Linked DNA regions of Homo sapiens: regions 1 and 2 are each linked to region 3. Evidence: fine-mapped expression QTL. A gene starts in region 3. Each other region holds a variant in brackets. All regions are shown on one strand. Distances are between the middles of the regions.

What was found. PIP is the estimated chance that this variant, and not a neighbour inherited with it, causes the effect.
Region 1: its variant is fine-mapped to the expression of PDLIM1 in whole blood (TOPMed, PIP above 0.99).
Region 2: its variant is fine-mapped to the expression of PDLIM1 in whole blood (INTERVAL, PIP 0.95).

Annotation. Positions count from the first base shown.
Region 1 is chr10:95,265,325-95,273,515 of GRCh38, reverse strand. It overlaps PDLIM1 (PDZ and LIM domain 1), which reads left to right. Exons shown (of 7, transcript NM_020992.4): 2 at 1,732-1,883; 3 at 4,654-4,738. Among named protein-coding and RNA genes, the nearest start is that of PDLIM1, 22 kb to the left of the region's middle. The variant C/T (reference allele first, on the strand shown) is at 3,209.
Region 2 is chr10:95,248,146-95,256,336 of GRCh38, reverse strand. All of the region lies in intron 4 of PDLIM1 (PDZ and LIM domain 1), which reads left to right. Among named protein-coding and RNA genes, the nearest start is that of PDLIM1, 39 kb to the left of the region's middle. RefSeq lists an enhancer at 1,468-1,647. The variant G/AG (reference allele first, on the strand shown) is at 5,103.
Region 3 is chr10:95,286,827-95,294,974 of GRCh38, reverse strand. PDLIM1 (PDZ and LIM domain 1) reads left to right here and starts at 3,972. Exons shown (of 7, transcript NM_020992.4): 1 at 3,972-4,155. The coding sequence starts at 4,060. RefSeq lists enhancers at 1-13, 1,322-1,411, 5,136-5,455 and silencers at 1,902-1,971, 3,615-3,694, 3,745-4,134, 4,185-4,284, 4,305-4,414.

The sequences.
Region 1 (8,191 bases), 21 kb after region 3:
GGACCTCAAGGATCAACTTGTCCTCATTTTTTGGGGTCAGGGTGCTGATGGGGAATGCACCATAATAGCGGCACCACACTAGCTGCGCTGAGGGCTAATCGGAAACTGTAGCTGCTGAAAACTGCATCAGATACTGAGGTTTAGGACCCAACTTGTGTGTCCTGGTTTGGTGCCTTGAAGAACCTGTTACCTGTGGTTCAGCCATAAGGAGACACCCAGGTGTTCATAAGATCTTCCTCAACTGGATCCCGAGAGTCAAGGGCCTTCTCCAAAGGGTGGCCAGAGCCCTGTGGGCACTGGGAGCCTGGGGGTGTTACTGCCACCTTGATCCTGCGGACTTGGAATTCCCATCCAGGAAGGTCTTGTAATGTGGAAAAAAAAAGTTGTGAACTTACCCTGGGATGATGACAGTAATATTTTTAGTATACCTTAGTTTAGAAAATCTAACCAGATACCTTGGTTAGAGATAGTACTCTGAGGTGAGTACTATTTCAAAATGAGTTTGGATCTTGTTCATTCTAATAGCATCTGTATTCACTTGAAAAATGGTTGTACATCAGTGTAGGAGATGTGATATGTATTGAGTCCGCATGTATTGCTCTGTAGGCAGGTGAATTTAAGGACCTATTGCAGTAATTGATTGGCTTCCCCCAAGCATCAATGATCTGTCAATTTGGAACCACTGGTTTTAGAAGCATCAGTCTGCAGAAAACCAGCCGTCTATAGGGAATGACCCTAGTCATTTTGGGAGATTAAACCAGTATAAACCTATACTACCATACTTTAGGATATCCTTGATTGCTTTTAACAATTTTTTTTTAAATTTTTATTTTATTATTATTATTATTTTTTGAGACGAAATCTCACTCTGTTGCCCAGGCTGGAGTACAGAGGCATGATCTTGGCTCACTGCAACCTCCACCTTCTGGGTTCAAGTGATCCTCCTGCCTCAGCCTCCTGAATAGCTGAGATCACACCCGGCTAATTTTTTTGTATTTTTGTTAGAGACAGGGTTTCACCATGCTGGCCAGGCTGGTCTCAAACTCGTGGCCTCAGGTGATCCGCCTGCCTTGGCCTCCCAAAGTGCTGGGATTACAGGCATGAGCCACCATGCCTGGTCAACAATTTTTTAAATTAAAAAGTAATTCAATATTATTGTAAAAAACATTGCAAAACTGTATAACTGTGAACAATTTAGTGTGCAGTGTTTCCACTTTCTTTTGTATATATAACATTATTAAGATTTTTAAAGAAATAGGGTATTATAGTATATAATGTTCTCTAAATGTGTGTGTGTGTGTTTTTTTAAATGTAATTGTTAACTAATTTTAAGGAAGCAAACGTGGTTCAGTGGGAAGGACATCAGATCTGTTCGGGGTTTGTTTCCTGGCTCAGTAATACACTAGTTGGAGGACCAGTAATATAATAATATACTAGTTGGGTGATCCTGGGTAAGTCATAGGTCTTTCTAAGCCTCAGATCCTGGTCTTGGAAATGGGGACTGCTATTTGTCCTCCTTTCTCATAAGGTTGCTATAGGGATACAATGAGATCATATTAGAAAAGCCCTCTTTGTCAATGATAATATAAATGATTGTTATTATTTAAGCTATGATTTCAGCCCTCTTTTCTTTTTCAGGGCTTTGCTCCATATCAGTGAATACTTAACTTGGTGGTAACTTAGTGGTTTGGAGACAAATAGTAACTAGCCTGCTTTCCCCTTTTTTTCTAGGTCACTCCTGGAAGCAAGGCGGCTCTAGCTAATTTATGTATTGGAGATGTAATCACAGCCATTGATGGGGAAAATACTAGCAATATGACACACTTGGAAGCTCAGAACAGAATCAAAGGCTGCACAGACAACTTGACTCTCACTGTAGCCAGGTGAAGCCTATGGAAACGTTTTGTTCATTTCTGATTGACTAGAAGCTGTTTGTGGGCAGGGACTGCCTTCCCTATCTCAGAATCCCCCAGACCTCCTAGCTCAGTGCCATGTATATACTATAGGCATGCCAAAAGGTCTGTGGAATTTGAACTTCAGATTGCTTATTTCCCCTCTATTTTTTTTTTTTTTTTTTTTGAGACGGAGTCTCACTCTGTTGCCCAGGCTGGAGTGCAGTGGTGCAATCTCAGCTCACTGCAACCTCTGCCTCCCGGGTTCAAGTGACTCTCCTGCCTTAGCCTCCTGAGTAGCTGGGATTACAGATGTGCACCACCACACCCAGCAAATTTTTGTATTTTTAGTAGAGATGGGGTTTCACCATGTTGGCCAGGCTGGCCTCGAACTCCTGACCTCAGGTGATCCACCTGCCTTGGCCTCCCAAAGTGCTAGGATTACAGGTGTGAGCCACCGTGCCCAGCCCCCCTCTGATTTTCACGGTGCTTATGATGTGGGCTTCTTTCAGTAAGATACTTGCATTTTCACTTGATCCAACTCAACCAAAATTTTGAGTAAGTAAAATGTCCTGGCCAGGTGCGGTGGCTCTCTTTGTAATCCCAGCACTTTGGGAGGCCGAGGCAGACAAATCACTTGAGGTCTGGAGTTTGAGACCAGCCTGGCCAACATGGTGAAACCCTATCTCCACTAAAAATTAAAAAATTAGCCAGGTGTGGTAGCGTGCACCTGTAGTTCCAGCTACTCGGGAGGCCGAGGCAGGAGAATCACTTGAACCCAGGAGGCAGAGTTTGCAGTGAGCTGAGATGGCGTCACTGCACTCCAGCCTGGGCGACAGAGCGAAACTCCATCTCAAAAAAAAAAATGTCCTTAGGATGCTGCTGCTACTGCATTGTGCTGAGCAGTGGGTACCATGCCAGGAGATTGCAATAACAGAGAAAAACTTGAACACATTAGCAGCAGAGTACTGAGTGTAACTTTAGGTACATGACAAGCAAGGAGCGCTGGGGATAAAAGAATGAATGAGGGTAGCACCTTGGGAGCTGTAATTAGGGTAGAATTTCCATTCTTCTTTCATTTAGCCTTGGAAGGGGTCCCGCAAAGGCAGGATTTCGGAAGTGATTTGGTTCAACCCTCAGTTGGCTCCCTGTTTCCTACTGCATCAAATTCAGATGTTTCATTCTGATCACCTGTTATCTCACTAACCTTAGCTGCCACAGCTCTTTGTCATGGAGCCTTTGGTTAGATTCTCATCTGTGAAGTATGTTTTTTGCTTTTTTTTTTTTGCTTTGTGGCACAGGACTGGCAGGTGGAT[C/T]GAGTGTGGGGGAGTATATAAAAATATTTTGTACACTTCAGAGACCTACCCCATGAGAGGTACACTGTGTTATTACTACCCCCTCAAAAGCACATCTGCCCTTCATTCTCATCTCCATTTCTATCTTTGTCCAAATCCTCTCCTTCAAGCCCGAGTTCAGGACATTCATTCATTCATTGATTAATTGATTTTTTATTTGTTTACCGGCATGTTGAAAAGGGACATCTTGTATATCTGGCATAGACATTGTGACAAATATAAAGTTAAGTATGGCCAGGTATGGTGGCTCTAGTCTGTAATCCCAGCACTTTGGGAGGCCGAGGTGGGTAGATCACCTGAGGTTAGGAGTTCAAGACCAGCCTGGCCAACATGATGAAACCCTGTTTCTACAAAAACACAAAAAAATTAGCTAGGGATGATGGCAGGTGCCTGTAATCTCAGCTACTCGGGAGACTGGGCTGGGAGAATCGCTTGAGCCTGGGAAGCGGAGGTTGCAGTGAGCCAAGATCACGCCATTCATTGCACTCCAGCCTGGGCGACAGAGCGAGACTCTGTCTCAAAAAATAAATAAATAAAATAAATAAAGATAAGTATAAATATTTTCTACCTGCAAGAGAGGAAACAACGACACTAATGAAAACTGAGACTAAAGTAAAATCATTGCTCTGTGGTTGGTACAAAGAAAATAGTTTATAAGAGCAAAAGAGGGGCGTTCTTCTCTTTTTTTTTTTTTTTTGGGATGGAGTCTCACTCTGTCACCCAGGCTGAAGTGCAGTGGTGCTATCTCAGCTCACTGCAACCTCTGCCTCCTGGGTTTAAGCAAGTCTCCTGCCTCAGCCTCCCGAGTAGCTGGGATTATAGGCGTATGCCACCACACCCGGCTAATTTTTGTATTTTTAGTGGAGATGGGGTTTCACCATGTTGGCCAGGCTGATGTCAAACTCCAGACCTCAAGTGATTTCCCCACCTCAGCCTCCCAAAGTGCTGGGATTACAGGCGTGAGCCACCACGCCCGGCCAAGAGGCATTATTTTCATTTGGGTCAAACAGGCTTCACAAATAAGTTGGTTATTTGGTCTGGACCAAACACACTGGGTTGAGATAGAGGAGAAGCCCATTCTATCCTGAGCAGAGATAGGGCAGTGTGAGTCATGCTTAGGAACATGGAGGAGACCACACTGCTGGTGTCAGCTACCCAGAGTGTGGTGAGGGAGGATGAAGTGCTTGGGAAGCCCCTTGGGGCTATGCTGGGGAGCCATCAGCCATGGATGTTATCAGATTGGGGTGTTTAAAAGATCAACCTGGTGGCAAATGGAAGGTAGAGCTGATGGGAGGGTGCTAGTTCAGTGCCTAGTCCAGGAAAGAGGGGGCATTTTTCCAGTTTGTCTTTGGTATATATTATTTATTTTACATGAGTGAAACAGCAGCTTTGTTAATCTGTTGCAGATCTGAACATAAAGTCTGGTCTCCTCTGGTGACGGAGGAAGGGAAGCGTCATCCATACAAGATGAATTTAGCCTCTGAACCCCAGGTAAGTTCTTGCTCATCGTTGCCGCTGCTCTCACCACCCAGCACTTTGCCGTTTCTGACACTGCTCAGCACATTCCTGTTTTTCCTGCCCTGGAGGCCTGGGGATAAGACCCTTCACTGTCTCTGCTGGTATCTGGCTCTTGTTCAGTTCTTCCCGTAAGGGAACTGCAGGAGGATAGGGCTGGAAAACCCCAGGGCAGTGACGCTGTGTCCTGGGCTGGAAGCAGGGGGTCGGAAGGCGATAAGGGAAGCCGGTGGAAGCCTTCCTGCGTGGGAAGGGTTGGCAGGATCACAGTGAAGTCAAGGAGCTATTCAGCTCGTTATGGATTTCAGCAACAAATGAATCATGACAGGGATGAAAATAAGTTTAGGTCTGGAGGCCTAGAGCCTAGAAGAAATCGGGGAATATGTAATAGGAAGCCCTGCTTCTCCCCACTGTATGCCCCTGTCTGGTTTCCATGAGCCATGGAGTGGAAATCTCTATTTTTGTTACAGTGAAACTTCTAGTGAGACTTTAAAATTACTAAAATAAAGCAGCAATTAATATAAAAAAAAGCAGTACATAGTGTACAATTTGTCACCCAGATAGAATTTCTCAGGACAGTAGACTGCCCTAAGATCCCATATTTGTGAATAAATCTCTCAGTAGTTGGATTATTGGATTGTAGGTGATTTTATTTCTTTCTGCCTTATGTGCCTCTTCTAAATAATCTACAAGGCATGGGTATTGTTTTTGAAATAAGGGACAAACTTAGAGATGTTTAGAACATCTTTTGTAAAATTCCTCACACCCAACATGCTACTTGTCTCAAAGTATGTGTCTGTTGGATACATTAATGAATTAGTAATGATAAACTAGGTATGTTGATAATGCCTTTTGAAAATTTTACACTGGTTTGTGATGGTTATGCATTTGACCCAAGTTGAAGATTTGAAATTTAACTTATTTTTCTAAATTTGGGATACTATTTAGTTTTTATGGTGAATTAAGATGTAATTAAAATACAATATATAGCTAGCTATCTTTTATACATAAAACAGAAACTTGTATGAAGTTGAACTCACTTGGTATATTAGTGTGTGTTAATTGGGTGGTTGGATATAAGTCATATTTTCTCAAATAGAATCCATTAAAATTTCAAAAACGAAGTCACATAAAATTTTTGCCATTAAGATAGTAAAAATAATTATTAAAAATCCCAAGAGTCATTTTAAGGATCATTTTGCATCATTTCAAAACTGATGTGAACATATTCTTCTATACAACTCCTCTCAGGAAAGTTCGTAAAATGGCACTTGGTCTATACACTGGCAGTTGTGCAAACTAATTTAAAACATGCCACAGTTAGTTTCAGTTTCCTTGGGAGTTCTCAGCTACTTCATTAAATTTACCATAAATGTTAAATTTTAATTGTTAAATTTTAATTTTTACATATTTTATAACACACAAGGAATGATTTCGTTTTAACTTGGTCTATCTGAAATCCTCATTTTCATGTAAATAAGGTAATTATGTAAATTTCAGTTATAGTTTTCATTTGTAGTATATTTGAATTTTCATTTTAAATCTGTAGTTACCTGTATTAATCTTTTGAAGGTAGTTCTCTTCAGATTACAAAAATTCTCAAATACTTTAAACCCTTGTATTTTTCTTGTGATTCTAGTAATGCTTTATTACTGTAAGAAAAACTTCTCACCCATCATTTTTCCAGTCTTTTACTTCCAGCCATTCTAAAGTAGAGGATAAATGAGTAAGAGCAGAGTTCATCTATAATAAAAAGATCTGTTGGTTCATGTAATGCCAACCAACACCCCAGCTTATCTGAGGTCAGCATAGTTACACACCTAGTTTGTACTTCCTCATTATTGAGTTTCCTTGGAGACTGATAAATACAAAGCCCAAACAATTACATCATCCCTTCTAAAAGGCAAGCCCTGAATCTGCCTGCTTTCTGGAAAGACCAGTCAGTATTCAGATGAGGGTAGAGATATTCCTTTTATGTACAAACCAGATGCATTCTTGAAAGATTCTTTAGAAAGTGAAATCATCCGAATTTTCAACCTGAATTTTCCATTGACTTCCATTCTAATTGGAAATGTGTTTCGGTGGAGGGAGAAGGGAACAGACCCTGGTTGAATATGTGCCACGAGCCAGGCACTGTACTTGACACTCTAGTAACTCACACAAATCCTTGTAAAGAAGGCTTTATCTTCTTCATTTTAAAGATGAAAAATGGGCTTAGAGGGGTATTCCTTGCCAAACAGGAAATTGCAGGGAAAAATTGAGCCAAGGCGGAAAAATAAAGACCCTTCCTTGGGGCTCTGCATCCTCTGCTGCTCCTAGGAATTGCCATGGTGATGGAGAGAAGAAGAAAGAATGACCATCCTGGCTGCGGCACATGTAGGCAAGGGTACCAGGCCACCCATCTGTAAATCTCTGTCTTCATGACCATAGCCTTTAATTACTATATATTATTTATTTGGGTAGCTGTGCCATAAAATTTACTTAACTACTCTTTGATAACTGCTGAAGTTTTGTGTTGTTTTTTATTTTTTGTTATTTATTTTTATTTTTTATTTGTGAGATGGAGTCTTGCTCTGTCACCCAGGCTGGAGTGCAATGGTGCAGTCTTGGCTCACTGCAACCTCTGCCTCCTGAGTTCAAGTGATTTTCTTGCCTCAGCCTCTGAGTAGCTGGGATTACAGGCAGGTGCCACCACGCCTAGCTAATTTTTATATTTTAGTAGAAACGAGGTTTCACCATGTTGGCCAGGCTGGTCTTGAATTCCTGAACTCAGGTGATCCTCTTGCGTTGGCTTTCCAAAGTGCTGCGATTACAGGAATGAGCCACCGTGCCTGGCCTGTTTTGTTTTTTTAGGGATGAGAGTCTAGCTCTGTCACCCAGGCTGATGTGCAGTGGCACGATATGGCACACTGCATCCTCCATCTCATGGGCTTACATGATCCTCCTGCCTCAGCCCTCTCAAGTAGCTGGGACTACAGGCTACTTGACTGTCTAACTTTTTTTTACGGATGGGGTCTTACTATGTTGCCCAGGCTGGTTTCGAACTCCTAGGCTCAAGCAATCCTCCTGATTTGGACTCCCAAAGTGTTGGGATTACAGGCGTGAGCCACTGCACCCAGCCAAAAGAGAAATCTTTTTTTTTTTTTTTTTTTTTTTTTTTGACAGAGTTCCACTCTCGTTGCCCAGGCTGGGGTGCAATGGTACAATCTCGGCTCACCGCAACCTCTGCCTCCTGGGTTCAAGAGATTCTCCTGCCTCAGCCTCCCGAGTAGCTGGGATTACAGGCATGCGCCACCATGTCTGGCTAATTTTTGTATTTTTAGTAGAGATGAGGTTTCTCCATGTTGGTCAGGCTGGTCTTGAACTCCGGACCTCAGGTGATCCGCCCGCCTCGGCCTCCCAAAGTGCTGGGATTACAGGCGTGAGCCA
Region 2 (8,191 bases), 39 kb after region 3:
TTTTATCTGCAAAAAATGCCATTAGGGTTTTGATAGTGATTGCATTGAAGATGTAGATTGCTTTGGGTAGTACAGATATTTTAACAGTCTTAGGTCTTCCAGTCCATGAACATGAGATGTCTTTTTGTTTATTTGTGCATTCTTTGGTTTCTTTCAACAATGTTTTATATTTTTAAACATTTTAAAATGTTTTATAATTTTAAAATGTACTCTATTCAGTGTACAAGTCTTTCACCTCCTTGGTTAAGTTTATTAGGTATTTTGTTCTTTTTGATGATTACACAAGATTGTTTTCTTAGTTTTCTTTTTGGATTATTCATTGGTAGTGTATAGAAACAACTTTTTTGTTTGTTGATTTTGTATTTTGCAACTATGCTGAATTCATTTATTAGTTCCAATTGTGTGTGTGTGTGTGTGTGTGTGTGTGTGTGTGTGTAGTGGGGGGGGATCTTTAGGGTTTTCTGTGTATTCGATCATCGCATCTTTGAACAGATACAATTTTACTTCTTCCTTCCCAATTTGGATGCCTTTTATTTCTTTGACTTGCCTAAGGTCTCTGATTAGGACCTCCAATGCTATGTTGAAAAGAGGTGGTAAAAGTTGGCATTCTTGCCTTGCTGCTGATCTTAGAGGAACAGCTTTTGGTTTTTCATTTTGAGTGAGAGGTTAGCTGTGGGTTTTTCATACATGGACTTTATTATGTGGAGGTAATTTCCTTTCATTCCTGTTTTGTTGAGTATTTTTATCATGAAAGTTTGTTAAATTTTGTCAAATGCTTTTTCTGCATTCAGATGACTGTAGTTTTTGTCCTTCATTCTGTTAATGTGATGTGTTACACTGATTGATTGTTATATGTTAAAACATCCTTGCATTACAGGATTAAATTCCACTTGGTCATGGTGTTTAATCCTTTTAATATGCTGTTGAATTTGGTTTGCTAGTAGTTTGTTGAGTATTTTTGCATCAATATTCATTAGTAATATCAGTCTGTAGCTTTTTTTTTTTTTTTTTTAGTATCTTTGGTTTTGGTATCAGGGTAATAGTGGCCTCATAGAATGAGTTTGGAAGCATTCTCTCTTCAGTTTTTTGGAAGAGTTTGAGAAGGATTAGTTTTAATTCTTTTAAAATTGTTTGATAGAATTCACCAGTGAAGCCATCTGGTTCTGGGCTTTTCTTTGTTGGGATGTTTTTGATTACTGATTGAACCTCCTTACTAGTTATAGGTCTGTTTAGAGATTTTTAATTTTTGTATGACTCAGTCTTGGTAGGTTGTGTTTTTGGGAATTTATCTATTTCTTCTAGGTTTTCTAATTTGTTAATGTATAATTGTTCATAGTAGTCTGTTATTATCCTTATTTCTGTGGTATTAGTTGTAATGTCTCTTTCATTTCTGATTTATTTATTTATTTACTTACTTACTTACTTACTTAGAGGCAGTCTCTCTCTCTTGCCCAGGTTGGAGTGCAGTGGCTCACTGCAACCTCTGCCTCCTGGGCTCAAGTGATCTTCTTACCTCAGCTTCCTGAGTAGCTGAGACTACAAGTATGTGTCACTATGTCTGGTTAATTTTTTTTGTAATTTTTGTAGAGACAGGGTTTCACCATGTTTCCCAGGCTGGTCTCGAACTTCTGAGCTCAAGCAATCCTCCTGCATTGACCTCCCAAAGTACTGGGATTATAGTCGTGAGCCACCGTGCCTGGCATGATAGTATTGTTGAATTTTTCTGTATCCTCTCTGATTATCTGTCTAGTTGATCTATCAGTTGTTAAGAGAGGGGTATAGAAGTCTTCAACTAAAATTGTGAATGTGTCTCTTTTCCTTTCAGTTCTATCAGTTTTTGCTTTACATATTTTGAAGCTCTGTTGTTTGATGCACACACATTTAACATTGCTATAGCTGTTGGTGAGTTAACCCTTTTGTGGTTATATAATGTCCATTTCCATCTCTGGTAAATTTACTTGTTCAGAGGTATACTTATCAGATATTATTAATAATATAGCCACTCCTGTTTTCTTTTGATTAATATTGGCATGATATATTGTTCTCTACCATTATACTTTTAGCCTGCTTATACATTAATATTGGAAATGAGTTTTATGTTGATAGCATGTATTTGGGTCATGTTTTAAAATGTACTGTTTTGTATCTACCCTGTTCATTTCTGTCTTTCAGTTGGTTTATTTAGATGATGAACATTAATGCGATGATTGATATGTTAGGGCTTAAGTCTGGTATTTTATTTTGTTTTCTGTTTTCCATTTCTGTTTTCTTTTTCCTGCTTTCCTGTGGGTTATTTGACATCATTTTTTTTAGAATAACATTTTTATTTGTAGTGTTTTTTATTCTATGTCTTTGTATAACCTTTTCAGTAGTTATCTGGGTATTACATTGTGTATATATAACTTATCACAGTTTACTGGCGTCATCATTTCAGGAGTTCAAAGAAGTATAGAAACTTTGCTTCTCTTTGTGAACCTTTGCCCTCCCCTGCTTACAATATAGTTAAAATAGATCCTTTTATACACTTAGAACCACATCAGACAGTGTTATAATTTTTGCTTTACTTGTCAACAAGAGTTAGAATATATTGAGAGGGCAAGTATTTTTTAAACCCATATTTTTGCTTATGGGTTCTTTTTTCATTCTCGATATTCCAAGATTCCTTCTTTTTTTTTTTTTTAAGACAGAGTCTCGCTCTTGTCACCCAGGTTGGACTACTGTGGTGCGATCTCCGCTTACTGCCACCTCCACCTCCCGGGTTCAGGTGATTGTCATGCCTCAGCTTCTTGAGTAGCTGGAATTAACGGGCATCCGCCACCACGCCCAGCTAATTTTTGTATTTTTAGTAGAGACAGGTTTTTGCCATGTTGGCCAGGCTGGTCTTGAACTCCTCACCTCAGGTGAGCCACCATGCCTGGCTGGTTCCTTCTTTTATTTTTTTTCGTCTATTTAGAGAACTTCCTTTAAACATTGTTAGGGTAGCTTTGCTAGAGATAAATGCTCTCAGTTTCCCTGTATCTGAGAATGTCTTGATTTCTCCTTCATTCTTGAAGGATATTTCCACTGGATACAGAATGCTAGGCTGGCAGTTTTTTTTCTTTCAGCAGCTGAAAGCATTGTGCTACTTCCTTCTTTTCTTTATGGATTCTGATAAGAAATCTGCTGTCTTTTGAATTGGTTTTCCCCTCTAGATAAGGCGTCATTTTTCTCCTACTGCTTTGGAAATTCTTTCTTTGTTGTAGTTTTCAGAAATTTACTATGATATGTTTTGGTGTGGATTTTTTTAGGTTTATCCTGTTTCCTGTTCACTTCACTTCTTTATGTCTTTTGCCAAATTTAGGACACCTTCAGACATGATTTCTTCTAGTACTTTTCTAGTTCCACCTTTTTTCTCTTCTTCCAAGACTCCATTGACATGAATTTTTGATCTTTTATATATTCCCATAGGTTTGTGAGGCTCTTCATTTCTTTTTTTTCTCCCCATTCTATTTTTCTATGATCTTGAAATTGTATAATTTCTAATATTCACCTTCCAGTTCACTGATTCTTTCCTTTGTCTCCTTCATGCTGCTGCTGAGTGTATCCACTGTGGTTTTATTTCAGTTATTTTGTCAGTTCTAGAATTTCCATTTCATTCTTTATATCTTCTGTTTGTTGAGACTTTATTTGTTTTAAATGTGCTCATAATTGTTCATTGAAACATTTTTATGATGACTGTGTTACCATCTTTGTTAGATAATCCCAACATCTCTGTCATCTTGGTGTTGGCATCTCTTTATTGTCTTATTTACAGTTTGAGATCTTCCTGGTTCTTCTGAGAGATGTGATTTTTCAACTGAATCTTGAACATTCTTGTTACTATGTTATTAGATTCTGGATCGCATTAAAACCTTCTGTATTCACTGGCTTCCTCTCAGATATGGGATTGGGGATGCTGCCTCATTACTGACAGGTGGGGGTAGAAAGTCCACTTTCCCCACTCTGCCTATGTCACACCTGAGGTCATTGGGGCCACTCATTACTGCTGGATGGGGTGGGAGTTCTGGCTCCCCATATGGCTTCCACTGACACCTTATGGGTGAGTGGTGGCCTAGACACTGCTGAGCAGTGGTGAGAGTCCTGATTCTCTCCTAGGTTTTCTTCATTACAGCTGGGTAAGGATGAAATATGGACTCTCTATTGGGCTTTCTCTGAATCTACCCCAGTGAGATAGTTGGGGAACCACATCATAGCCTGGTGAGACTAGAAGTCTGGACCCCCCACTTGGCCTTTTCTGGCATTTGGCTGGAGAATAGTGTTGTTTCAATGTGTTGTGTTTTGCTGGGCTGCCCCTTTCTGGTTATTTGGTCAGATACAGCAGGCTCCTCTTGAGACTTCTTCTGTCTGTGCCCATTGCCCTTTCCAGGTTGCTGCCCTCCGCTCCATGTCTGGGATGTCCAAGGAAACAAGAACACCCTGGGAGCTCACCATCGTGGTCCTCAGGACGTGGGGTCCCTAGCCAGTGTGGCTTCCGTTGCCCTGTCAGAGTCTTCTCATGTTGTTTTATATGTAATGTCCAGGGTTTTTGGTTTTACTGGGTGAAACAGGGAAAAATATGTCTACCTCATCTTCTCAGACAGGAAAAATATTTTTATGAGGAGACCATCTTCTCCTGTCTGGATGCTTTCAATAATTCACGTAATCCCCGTTTCTATTCCAATTTTTATCTCACATACAGGTAGTTTTATTAAAGTATCAAAATGTTCTTACTGTGTGAGAAAATGACCCTACTAAGGTTGTATCAGCAATGAGGATTTTTTTCTTATGGCTGTCTTGTTTTAGCAACTTCTGCCTCCTAGGTTCAAGCGATTCTACTGCCTCAGCCTTCCAAGTAGCTGGGATTACAGGCACACGCTGCAGCACCTGGCTAATTTTTTTTGGATTTTAGTAGAGATAGGAGTTTCACCGTGTTGCCTAGGCTGGTCTCGAACTCCTGAGCTCAGGCAATTCACCTGCTTCGGCCTCCTAAAGGTGTGAGCCACCGCACCTGGCCTAGCTGAGATTTATATACAGATAATTAAGTTGCTGCCACAGATGATGGCCCAAGTTAAAAAAAAAAAAAA[G/AG]CCCCTTATATCCTCACTCTGGGCACTTCATGGTTCTGATGGAGTAGACTTTCATCCCAGGGTTGCTGTGCTGACCCATGCTCCAGAGCCATGGGCGTACTGCTTTCCATCCTCCTCGTCCTTCTGACCCTCACCCCAGCTGCCCTTTTGGCTGGAGCAGGTGTGAGAAACACATAAGGTCTGCAGGCTCAGCCTCCAAAATCCTCCTCTGGGAGGTGGGCTCAAGGGGAGTTTCTGCTTATGTTCTAAAGACCACTAGGATCCTCCTACGCCTGGCTGTGTCAGCCATCTTATTTGGCAGGGATGGGAGTGGCTTGGCTAGAATAACCCTGGGGCCCTCAGGTCACGTCCTAAAATAGTGGGAGAAAATATTAAACATTTAGGAAACAGATACACATCAGCTCCCAGGGAGAAACAAGAACTAGGAAACTTTGTGTAACGTATTGTTACTCCAAAGTAGTTGAATTTGCTTAAACTCGTTATTAAAACTGTATAGAGTGGGTTCAGAAGAAAGTGTTCATTTTCACTGTTACGCCGTCAAAACTTTTTCTCCTGGAGACTGAGTGGTGTGTATTATATTTTCTGAAGCCATATCACTGTAATATTCTTTCATTGCTGTTTTTAATATAAAAACGAGAAATTTTTTGCTCCATTTCTCCTTCATATTTTTGTCATCATTTTTTAAGATATTGTGGTATCATGTCAATACCTTGTAATCTAGTGTCTAAGACTTAGACGTTGGATCTTAGGATGTTATTTTTGAGTCAGGTGTATCAATACCTTAAGTAAGGTAATAGATATTGAGAGTCCTTTATAAATTGTCCAGTGGTTTAAAGATACTATCATTATTTGAGAAAAATGGTAAGTTTTTTTTTTTTTTTAAATTATAGAAATCCCTCACAAGGTGATTTGCTGGAAGAATATGTGATGGCCTTGTGGTCTGGGTTCTGTCATTTTTTTGGTGTGTTCCATTGGTGGCTTCCAGACATAACATACACCAAAGAAGAAGAAAAATCTTTCCCAAGAACATTCCATAGTCTGATCTCAATTTTAAAATAGTCCTAAGTGTAATAGAAAAAAGATTTATCCAAAAATAATGTAATATGCTTATTATGGGGCAAGTTCCAAACTCAGGACTCAAAGAGTCAGGCATATAACTCAAAGAAAGGGCTGGAAAGTGAGACAAAGAAAGACCCTTGGTTAAAACAACTCCCCCAGGTGGCCCCATTGCCTGCCCTGAGAGGCACCCACAGTTCCCTGCAGGTGGGGGAAGAGGCCAAGCAGGAGTGGGCAGGACAGGCAGGGATAGCTGCTTTCCCTTCCCCAAATGCAGCCGGCCGGAGTGACCAACCCATGAATCTTGCTACTTAAACTCTGACCTTCTTTGGTAGCCATGAAGCATATGCCACTCTTTGGGTGCCTTTTCCTTTATTGTGAGAACATGGTTGGAGTGGAAGGGAAACACCTGGACCTTGATTGCTATGATTGACTCTGCCTTTAGCTGGGGACCTGAGTACTGAACGTGCCCCAGAGGTTGTCTCAGAAAAGAGAAAGGAAGAAAGGAGAGGAAGAGAGGGAGAGGAAAAGGGAACTTGCGGAGAATTACCCAGGGAAAACATATACCCTGGAAATGAGTAAGCGTAACTGATATAATTCATTTGCACCTGTGAAAGTGGCTCCAGCCCTAAAGAGAGTCTGTTTAGAGTTGCTGAATAAAACCACTCCTGGCCACTGCCTGCATCTGTAAAGCTGGGAGGCAGCCTGGTGGGCTGGAGACTTTATAGCTTTATTACTCAGGAAGCACAACTTGTTTATATACAAATCTATCCATCTGCATCAATAAATTGCCCCACCATCTGATATTTGCTCTTTGGTTCCACTGGGCACACTGGCCTTTCTCCTTAGCAGCTCAGCTGAGAGGAAGGTGGTGATCTGGGGCCAGGAGGTGGGGCTGCCCATGTCCCTGGCACAACCCTCAGAGGCTGGCTGCCCTGGAGGACCTCGTGAGCCTGCAGGAACAGGGGGAGCACAGCAAGGAGGAAGGAGGCCCTGGACCCATTCTGCAGTGTTCGTTCACTTGCCTGATGCCTGCTGCCTGCTGAACTGTGACCTGTGCCAGGCACTGAGCCGGGCCTGGGAATGTGATGGGGAGCAAGACAGGCCATGCTCCTGCCCTCCTGGGGCTTACTTTCCAGGGGGAGATAGACAACAAAGAAATAAGGGAATACACTGGAATCCATGGTGAGAGAGCAGGTAGGGAGTTAAGAGTGATAGTGGGGATGTGGCGGACTGTTTGGAGTCGGGGTCAGGAAGGCCTCTCTGAGGAGTGCACTTGAGCAGAGACCTGGATGAAGCATGGGAGCCATGACAACACCTGGGAAGGGCATTGCAGGCTGAGGGTGCAGTAAGTGCATAGGCTGTGAAGCTAGTGTTTCCCAGGCACAGCGGGAAGCCTGGTCTCAGTAGAGCAGAGTGGGCCAGGGCTGGCAGGGGATGTGTGTGGAGGGAGAAGTTTGGGTCACATATGTGAGGGACTTTCTCCTCTGTGATAACATTTACTCCAAAAAAGTTGAATTTGATTAAACATATATTTTAGTATTAAAACTAAATATTTTGTGCTAAGTCAAATGAGAATACATTGAGCCACAGCATGACACAGTCTGATTCATGTTTAAAATATCATTCTAGGCCAGGCACTCTGGCCCATGCCTATAATCCTAGCGCTTTGGGAGTCCGAGGCTGGAGGATCACTTGAGGCTGGGACTTTGAGACCAGCCTGGGCAACACAGCAAGACTCTGTCTCTACAAAATAATGACAAAATCAGCGGGGGATGGTGGCACACCTGTAGTCCTAGCCACTCAGGAGGCCGAGGCAGGAGGATTTATCTATTGAGGCCAGTAGTTCGAGGTTACAGTTACCTGTGATTGCACCACTGTACTCCAGCCTGGGTGACAGAGTGAGTCCCTGTCTCTAAAAAACAAAAAATATCACTCTGATATTTTGAATAGAGGCCATCACTTTGGCCTAAGCATGGCATGGCTTGGACCTGGGGGAGGTGGGGAGGTGAGAAGGGGTCAGATGGAGGATA
Region 3 (8,148 bases):
CTTGCACTTTCCACCCTCCTTGCTTCCCTCTTCTCATTCTCCCCGCTTGCCCTAGAACACCCAGATGTTGAATTTAGGCTGTTTAGGTTAACAAACTTTCATGGAATGTGTTATAATAATAAAAATAAGGCAAACTGAAGTTTGGAGAGGTTGCTTAAGGCCATTCAACTAGCACTGGGCAGGAGTCGAGGGTCTGAGGGAACTGGAAAGCATGAATAAATTGTGTTTAAGTAATGGTGTTTAAGGTAAGAGAAGATTGTTTATGTTTTGGGGTGAGGGTCGTCAATCTTTTTCTGGGTATTTTCTGAGTATATATGCTGTGTGCCCAGTTCAGAGCTAGCTGGTTGGGGGAGAGAAGAGGAGATAAAAAAGATAAATGGAGGCCGGGCGCGGTGGCTCACGCTGTAATTCCAGCACTTTGGGAGGCCGAGGTGGGTGTATCACTTGAGGTCAGGAGTTCGAGACCAGCCTGGCCAACATGGTGAAACCCCATCTCTACTAAAAAGACAAAAATTAGCCAGGCGTGGTGGCAGGTGCCTGTAATCCCAGCTACTTGGAAGGCTGAGGCAGGAGAATCACTTGAACCTGGGAGGCAGAGGTTGCGGTGAGCGGAGATCGTGCCACTACACTCCAGCCTGGGAAACAGAGTGAGACTCTGTCTCAAAAAAAAAAAAAAAAAAAAGGATAAATGATCAGGTCTCTATCCTGAGAAAGACTAGCATTTAGTCTCCATCCAAGGAGCTGGGACCATTTTGATGTTTATTATGAAAATTTTACATCATCATTAGAGGCAATTATTAAAAAAAATTCTCATTCTGTCTGCCACTACTTTTCCTACTTTCTCTTAATTTCAATAGGTAGATAAGCTTTTATTTTTTAACACGGTATACGAATAATTTTGTTGCACTCTTTTTACATATTTTGAAAACACATTTCCCTGTCTCTTCACAGTCTTCCTGGTTATTTTCATGCTGCATACTCTTCCCTCTTACGGCCATACCATATTTAGCCACTTTTCTGTTACTGGTTGATTCCAGTTTTTTGTCATTATAAATAATGCAGCTATAAATATCTGTATACATACAGCATTTTTCTTTTTAAAAATTATGTCCTTGGAATTGTTGCCCAGAAAGTGGATGACTGGGTCAAAGGGCTGACTGTTTTATAGCTCTTGTTATGTAGAGCCAGACTACAACCGAGGACATTTAAAAACAAAGCAACTGAGGACTCAAGTCTCACAGACATTTTGCTAACACATTAGTGCACTATGTCTGTATAGACTATTGTACGGAATAAACACTTATTGACACCTACTGTGATTGAGGTCCATGCTAGCAGGGCACTTGGAATGAATGAAAGGCAGTCTCTGCCTTCAGAAGCACAGAAGCTGTGACTTTTCAACCCTTTTCTCCTTCTAGGACAGAAAATATTCAAGATGGTTACACATCTAGGGACAGATTCAGAATTCGGTGATTCCTGCAAATTCTGCAGGGACTTGAAACACAGTCATGCTTTCTAATCAACAGAATCTTAAACAAAGAGAATGTATTTTTGGTGTTCATAAAGCAGGTGGCTGGTTACTGGCTATAACACCATTCTTTTTCTCAGGTTCAGGAAAGAATATCAGGTTGCAAGAGGTTGAGAGGGATGTATAATCATACAACTCCACTTTCATTTCCTTTTTTTTTTTTTTTTTTAGACCGAGTTTCGCGCTTGTTGCCCAGGCTGGGGTGCAATGGCGTGATCTCGGCTCACCACAACCTCCACCTCCCGGGTTCAAGTGATTCTCCTGCCTCAGACTCCCGAGCAGCTGGGATTACAGGCATGCGCCACCACGCCCGGCTAATTTTTGGTATTTTCAGTAGAGATGGGTTTCTCTATGTTGGTCAGGCTGGTCTCGAACTCCAGACCTCAGGTGATCCGCCCACCTTGGCCTCCCAAAGTGTTGGGATTACAGGTGTGAGCCACCGTGCCCGGCCCTCCACTTGGATTTCTAAAAGCAAACAAACTATTCCCAAACATAGGCATTTGTGCTGTCACACAATTGGACAAGCAAGATAATCTTTTTATGTGTAAATCTGTGCACAGGGCTCTTCAGTAGGTAGGCCAGGATCACAGGGAGACAGAGCTGCACAGGGAACAAACTCATTGAGCATGGGCTCTATGCCAAGCACTGTGCTGGGGCCTGGGTACCAGGATGAATGGGTGCCAAGAAAACTGCGAAGAAACTGGGCCCAGAGAGGGTAAGTGGTCCTGAGGATGGCCAATGTGTTATATACATTAAGTACTATGTGCCAGGCACTATTCTAGGCACTGGGGCACAGCAGTGATCTAAACAGATAAAAACCCCTGTCCTTATGGAATTAATGCTTAAGAGTGGGGGTGGAACAAATAAATATACAAAATATAGAGAATGCCAGATGGTGATACATACAAAAGAAAAAAATAAGGCAGGGGAAGGTAATAGAGCATTCTAGAGAGGATATCTTAAATGATGCTCAGAGATGACCTCAGAAAATGACATTTGCATTTTTTTTATTTTTTAGTTTTTGAGATAGGGTCTCACTCTGTCACCCAGGCTGGAGTACAGTTGCACGACCACAGCTCACTGCAGCCTTGACCTCTCCGGCTCAAGCCATCCTCCCACCTCAGTCTCCCTAGAAGCTGGGACAGGTGTGCCCCACCAAACCTGGTTAATTTTTATTTTTTTAAATTTTTTTGTAGAGACAGGGTCTTGCCGTGTTGCTGGGGCTGGTCTAGAATTCCTGGGCTCAACTGATCCTCCTGACTCAGCCTCCCAAAGTGCCGGGATTCCAGGCGTGAGCCACGTGTCCGGCCCCTAGAAAATGACAGAGAGTGGTGGGGATGTCTGGGAGAACAGCATTGCAGACAGGGCCCTGAGGCAAGGCCCTGAGTTAGGAGCAAGGAGCACAGCCTGGCAGACTGGGGGGCAGGTGAGGAAAGGGCAGGAGGAGTTGGGGTCAGAGAGGGAGTTGGGGCCATTCTAGGGGTGGCCTTGTAGGCATTGTAAGGATCTGGGTTTTCACTGGTGGTGAGGTGGGGACGCCATGGACAGCATGAGAAATGGTCTGGTCCGGCGTGGAGAATGCACTCCACCGGGAGGGCGTCAGGGGGAGCCTGGCTAGGAAGCTGGTGGGAGGCTGGGAATCCAGGTCCCGGACTCAGCTCTTCTTTTGCATTGACTTGGCCCTTGGCCCGCCCCAAACTTGAGGTTTGAACTGTTGAGGTCAGAACCTACCATGAACTCCAGCCTGGAGGAAAGATTTCTAGGAAGGCCTTGAAGTTCAGTTATAACCTGAGTGATGGTCTCATTAGCATTATAAAAGTTCCAGGATGGGGTTCTGCAGCACTGGGCCCGGGCAGTGGTCCAGATGCTGACGAGTGGTGTAGCGTCGGGCAAGTCTTCTCACCTACTGAGCAGACTCAGTTACTTCATCTGTAAAATGGGACTAAACGTCCCGGTTGCCTCAGCATCAAATGAGATCGTTCGAAAGCACCTTTTAAACATCATTACCGATTACAAAAAGCAAATGGGAAGTCGGAGCCGACCTCAGAGGGCTGACTTGGCACAGCACTTCAAATTTCTCGTTTTACAAAGCACGAGGCGCGAGTTTGTCTCGCTGTCAGGACCTGCTTCCCTCTCACCTAGCACCCGCCCCGGGCCCGAGAGCCGCGGTGCGGCCGTGCGTACAGGAGGGAGGGAGGCGGTGTGGGGTCCCGGGCAGAGCTGCTGAGAGCCCCGGCCCCGCATCTGACTCGCGCTCTCTCGGCGGGACTCCGGGCCAGGGCCCCCAGGCCGGCGCGCAGGGCGGGGAGCGGCTGCGGGCGGGAGGACGGGCGGGGCGGCGGGCGGCTACGCGGCCTGGGCGGAGCCGCCCCCGCCCTGGCCCTCGCGGTTGCCCTGCCCCCGCCAGCCCCAGGCTCCCCGGGCCCGCGCCGCGCCGCTCTTTCTCCGACAGCCGCCGGGGGTGCCCTGCAAGCTGTTCCGCGCGTCCTGCCCGTCTGTCCCCGCGGGTCGTCGCCCGCCACAGCCGCGCCATGACCACCCAGCAGATAGACCTCCAGGGCCCGGGGCCGTGGGGCTTCCGCCTCGTGGGCGGCAAGGACTTCGAGCAGCCTCTCGCCATTTCCCGGGTAAGAGCAGCTGGGACGTGCGTGGAAGCGGGGCGCTATGGGAGGTGATATGCGGAGACTGGGGCCCCGCGGGCGCGGTCGGGGACGGAGTCGGAACCGCAGCCGGGCGCGTCCAGGTGCGCTGTTAGTTGAGCGCTCTCCGCGCGCCCGGGCCCCGCCGCTCCCCGCCGCCCCTTCGCGGAGGCTGCGCTCCCGGGCTGGTCGGCCCGCCGCGGGCGCGCTCCGTGTCCGCCAGAAAAAAAGAAGGCAGTTTTCGTTCTTTGGCCCCGGAAGCGCGGCGGGGCGGGTGTTAGTTCTTTGTCAACCAGCGAGGGGACGAGGGTCCCCGCAGATCCCGCGCGCTGGGAGATGGCACTTCTCCCTTCTTCCCAGATCGCAGTGCAGCCGAACGCAACAGGAAAGACCTGGAAAGTGAGGTGGGGTGGGTGGGAAGTTTACTGGGGTGGGGGGCAAGTGGGATTAACCTAAAAAAACAACCGAAACACGCTCTTTGGACTTGACCCACGGCCGAGGCTCGCCCCTCGAATGGCTTTTGGAGAATGTGCTGGATTCGGGAAATAAACACAACAAACAAACTCAAGTAAACCCTCTTGGTCATTCTCCCCTCTGCAGAACGTGGCCCCGCCGTCATTCTTCCTAGCATTCCCAGATTATCTCTTTCCCCTCCCCGCACCAGCCCTTTTTTCTCAGGGCATGAGTAGATACTGCGATGGGGTGTCCACCTGGGGTGGGGTTGAGGTGCTTGAAATCTAAGAGGGGCTTCGGATCTTTAGAAGGACTCACGTTGAATCAGGGGCCACCAGAACCATTGCCCCCCTAATAAAGTGAAACCCCCAGGGAGACCCAGACTCAGTGTTCAGAGGTCTGGGCTTTGGCCATTTAATCTGGCCAAACACAGGTTGATGTCCCACTAAGAGATGTCACGTTCAGTGCTTGGGCACCAAGAAGAGACTCAGTAAGTACCTCGAATGAGGAAAGGGAGAAAAAGAAGTCCCCTTTCTCCCCACCCATGGCCACTCCTTGCCTGTAGGCGGCACATTCCATTCTTGGGCTCATCTGCCTGCTGAAGCTGCCCTTCAGCTTGTCTCCCAGACTTTCTAAACATCCTTCTTTTTCACTTGGGGTTGGGGGAAGGGTGGAGAAGAAAGGGAAATATCCTTATGGATCCTTTTGACTCAAGCTCCTGCGTCCAGCAGCTGAAGGAGTTTGGTGGGAGGTGCAGGAGAAGAATTGGTGGCCTCCTCTTGACTTGTCTGCCAGCCACAGTCCTACCCATGCTTCTTTCCCGGTTGGCCTGGCCCAGTGAGGAGGTCTTCTCTATCTCACCCCCCTAAAAGAGTAGGCGGGCCAGTTTTTGGGCCTTATCTTCCACCTGTTTGCCTCGTCCCACAGAGACCTCTGATTATTCTCAAAGGTACACACTGCCTTTCCAGCCACCAGCCTAATTCCTCAAGCGCAGGAACTGTGCCTTCCCCAGAATCGTCCCCGAGCCTGGTAGCAGACCTGTACCTGGCCGGGCTGGGTAAATCCTTGCAGGCTTATTAATAAATGCTTGTCCAGGGAGGACATTGTGTCTGCACATTTCAACTCGCTTACCTCATAGTCCATTTGTCCCTGTTCTTTGTGTCTATAATTAACCTGTCAGCCCTCTCCACTTCTGAGATTTATATATGACATGAAACCCTTTTTTAAGTAGTGGAGGATGTATTGGCAATCTGTTAAAAGGGCAGTTACTGCCTTTCACTTTAGCTGCTTTTAAAAGTCTTAATGCATGAGTGAATGATGGAATGGGGTGGAAAACACCACACTGTGAATTCATTGGTTTTTACCTTCATATATTCACTCATTTATTATTTATATTATTTATTTATGGCGTGTGCACGTGTTTAATGAGCACGTATCATATTCCAGAAACTGTGCAAACGCCTCAGAAATGAGAGGGCACAGCTCCATTCTCAAGGTGTTCATGGTCTAGTGATGGAAACTAATCTTTATAATGCCCTTGGCAGGTGCTTTAATTGAAAAGTGGAAGTGACTCAGAAGAGGTAACATTTTCATGCTGACAGTAATTTATTTGTTTCTCTTCAGCTCCTTATTAATACATGGAAAAATTGTGAGCCTGTTCACCTCATGGGAATGGGAAAGTCATTGTCATAAAGGGACCCTGGTGTGGCCATCTGAGATCTGGTGCTGGTCCAGTGTCTTCTTGCTTGAGCTGTACCTGGGGTGAATCTTCCACTGTCTGAGGCTACTTAAAAAAAAAAACCTCTGCAGTGGGGATAGCACCAGCCCTTGGCTGTGAGTTAAGGTATGTGAGAGTGCTCCGTAAATAGTGATAGTGAGGAAATGTGAGCACTGACAAAGAGCTGTACACACTTTCTGATTGGTAGGTATGCTACATTATTTATCATCCTGGGCAATTTGCTGGTATAGTTTTGTATATGATAGACTTTGAGTCTCCACACCAAAGCAAACCATAAAATTAGGCTGGGAGAGGAGTGCCTTTTATTTAAATAACCATGTTTGCTTTCTCTTGCATGAATTATTGTGGTATTGGCTCCAGTCTTTTGCTAAACTGCTAAAGCTTCTTAATATAATGCTAATCTTATGTACTTGCAATTTTTTTATTTTTTAACTTATTTTTTATTGTGGAATAAAAAATCATAAAATACAAATGCACAGCAAATGATTATAAAGCAAGCATCTGTATAATCACTACCCAAGTCAAGAAATAGAATATTGCAGCACCCAAAAGTTCCCTAAATGTAACGCTATCCTGACCTATGGTAATCCCTTCCTTGCTTTTCTTCATAGTTTTACCACCTAAATTAGGTATCCCAAATACCATAGCTTAATTTTGCCTGTTTCTGAACAGACTCATACAGAACACGTGTGTGTGTGTGTGAACAGCTTCTTTAGCTCCTTAATGTTTTCATCTAGTATCGTTATCAACTTAAAATTTCAACCCAGGTTTCCAACTTTAAGTGGACATAGGCTAGCTTCTTTTACCCACATTCTCGTTTAGTGCTCTTGCCTTGTGTTCCCTGATGATCCAGCCACACATTTGCCACTGTTCTCTGATATTTTTTTCTGTCAGTTCCTGCTTCAAATCAACACTTGCCCATTTCCTTGAGGTATTTTTTTAATTAAAAAAATTTTCCATGTTAATTTCTCCTTCCCTCTAGTTACTTTCAAGGGAAGCCTTCAGAGAAATACCCAGGCCAACATTGCAACTCAGTTTATGTTGACTGTTTTTCTCTCCCAGCAACTGATAAAAGACAGGAAAGGGTGAGGCCAAGATCAAGGGATGCCCTTAGTTGGAGGAGTTGCTCATTTGTCTCTGGAGTCCTGGGGAACCCTTTGCTAAGAGCTGAGCGGTTCTGTGGCAAATGCTTATGCTTTTTCTCAAGTATCCCAAGGGATGCTTAATAATGGTTACTGTGGCCAGAGGGTCATTTCTGATTTTTAAGAGTGGTATTTCCGGATTCAGATAGATTTTACATCATGTCGTAAAGATTGAAAGAGAAGGGTTTGTCTGTCAGATTATGAAAAGCAGGAAATGTCCAAAAAGGGTCATTATGTTTTAATGGCCATTGTGCTGCATGCCCTTGGTCTGTGAAATTGATACCTGGGAAATATTAGCGACTTCAGCTGCTCACAGCTGACTTAAGGAGAGAGGGGGAAGAGGACAAACCAAAGAGAATGACATGTAAGTGAATGCCTGAGCCCATACTACATTATCACCCTCTGACCAGATAGTCTCCCCTCCCTAAACTCCTGATGCCAACCTTGCTGGTTTGTTTGAGGAGGCAAGAGGGAAGAACAGTGGCTTTAGGGTATTGCAGCCAGGTAGATGACTGAGAGGAGAGTGTCATCTAAGCGTCTGGGTCATATTCTCCTAGGCTGACCAGGACTGGGAAAAGCACCAAGGAATTGCTGTGTACTGGGATCAGGATAGGACTGGCACATTCTTAGGCCATGCCTTAACTCTTG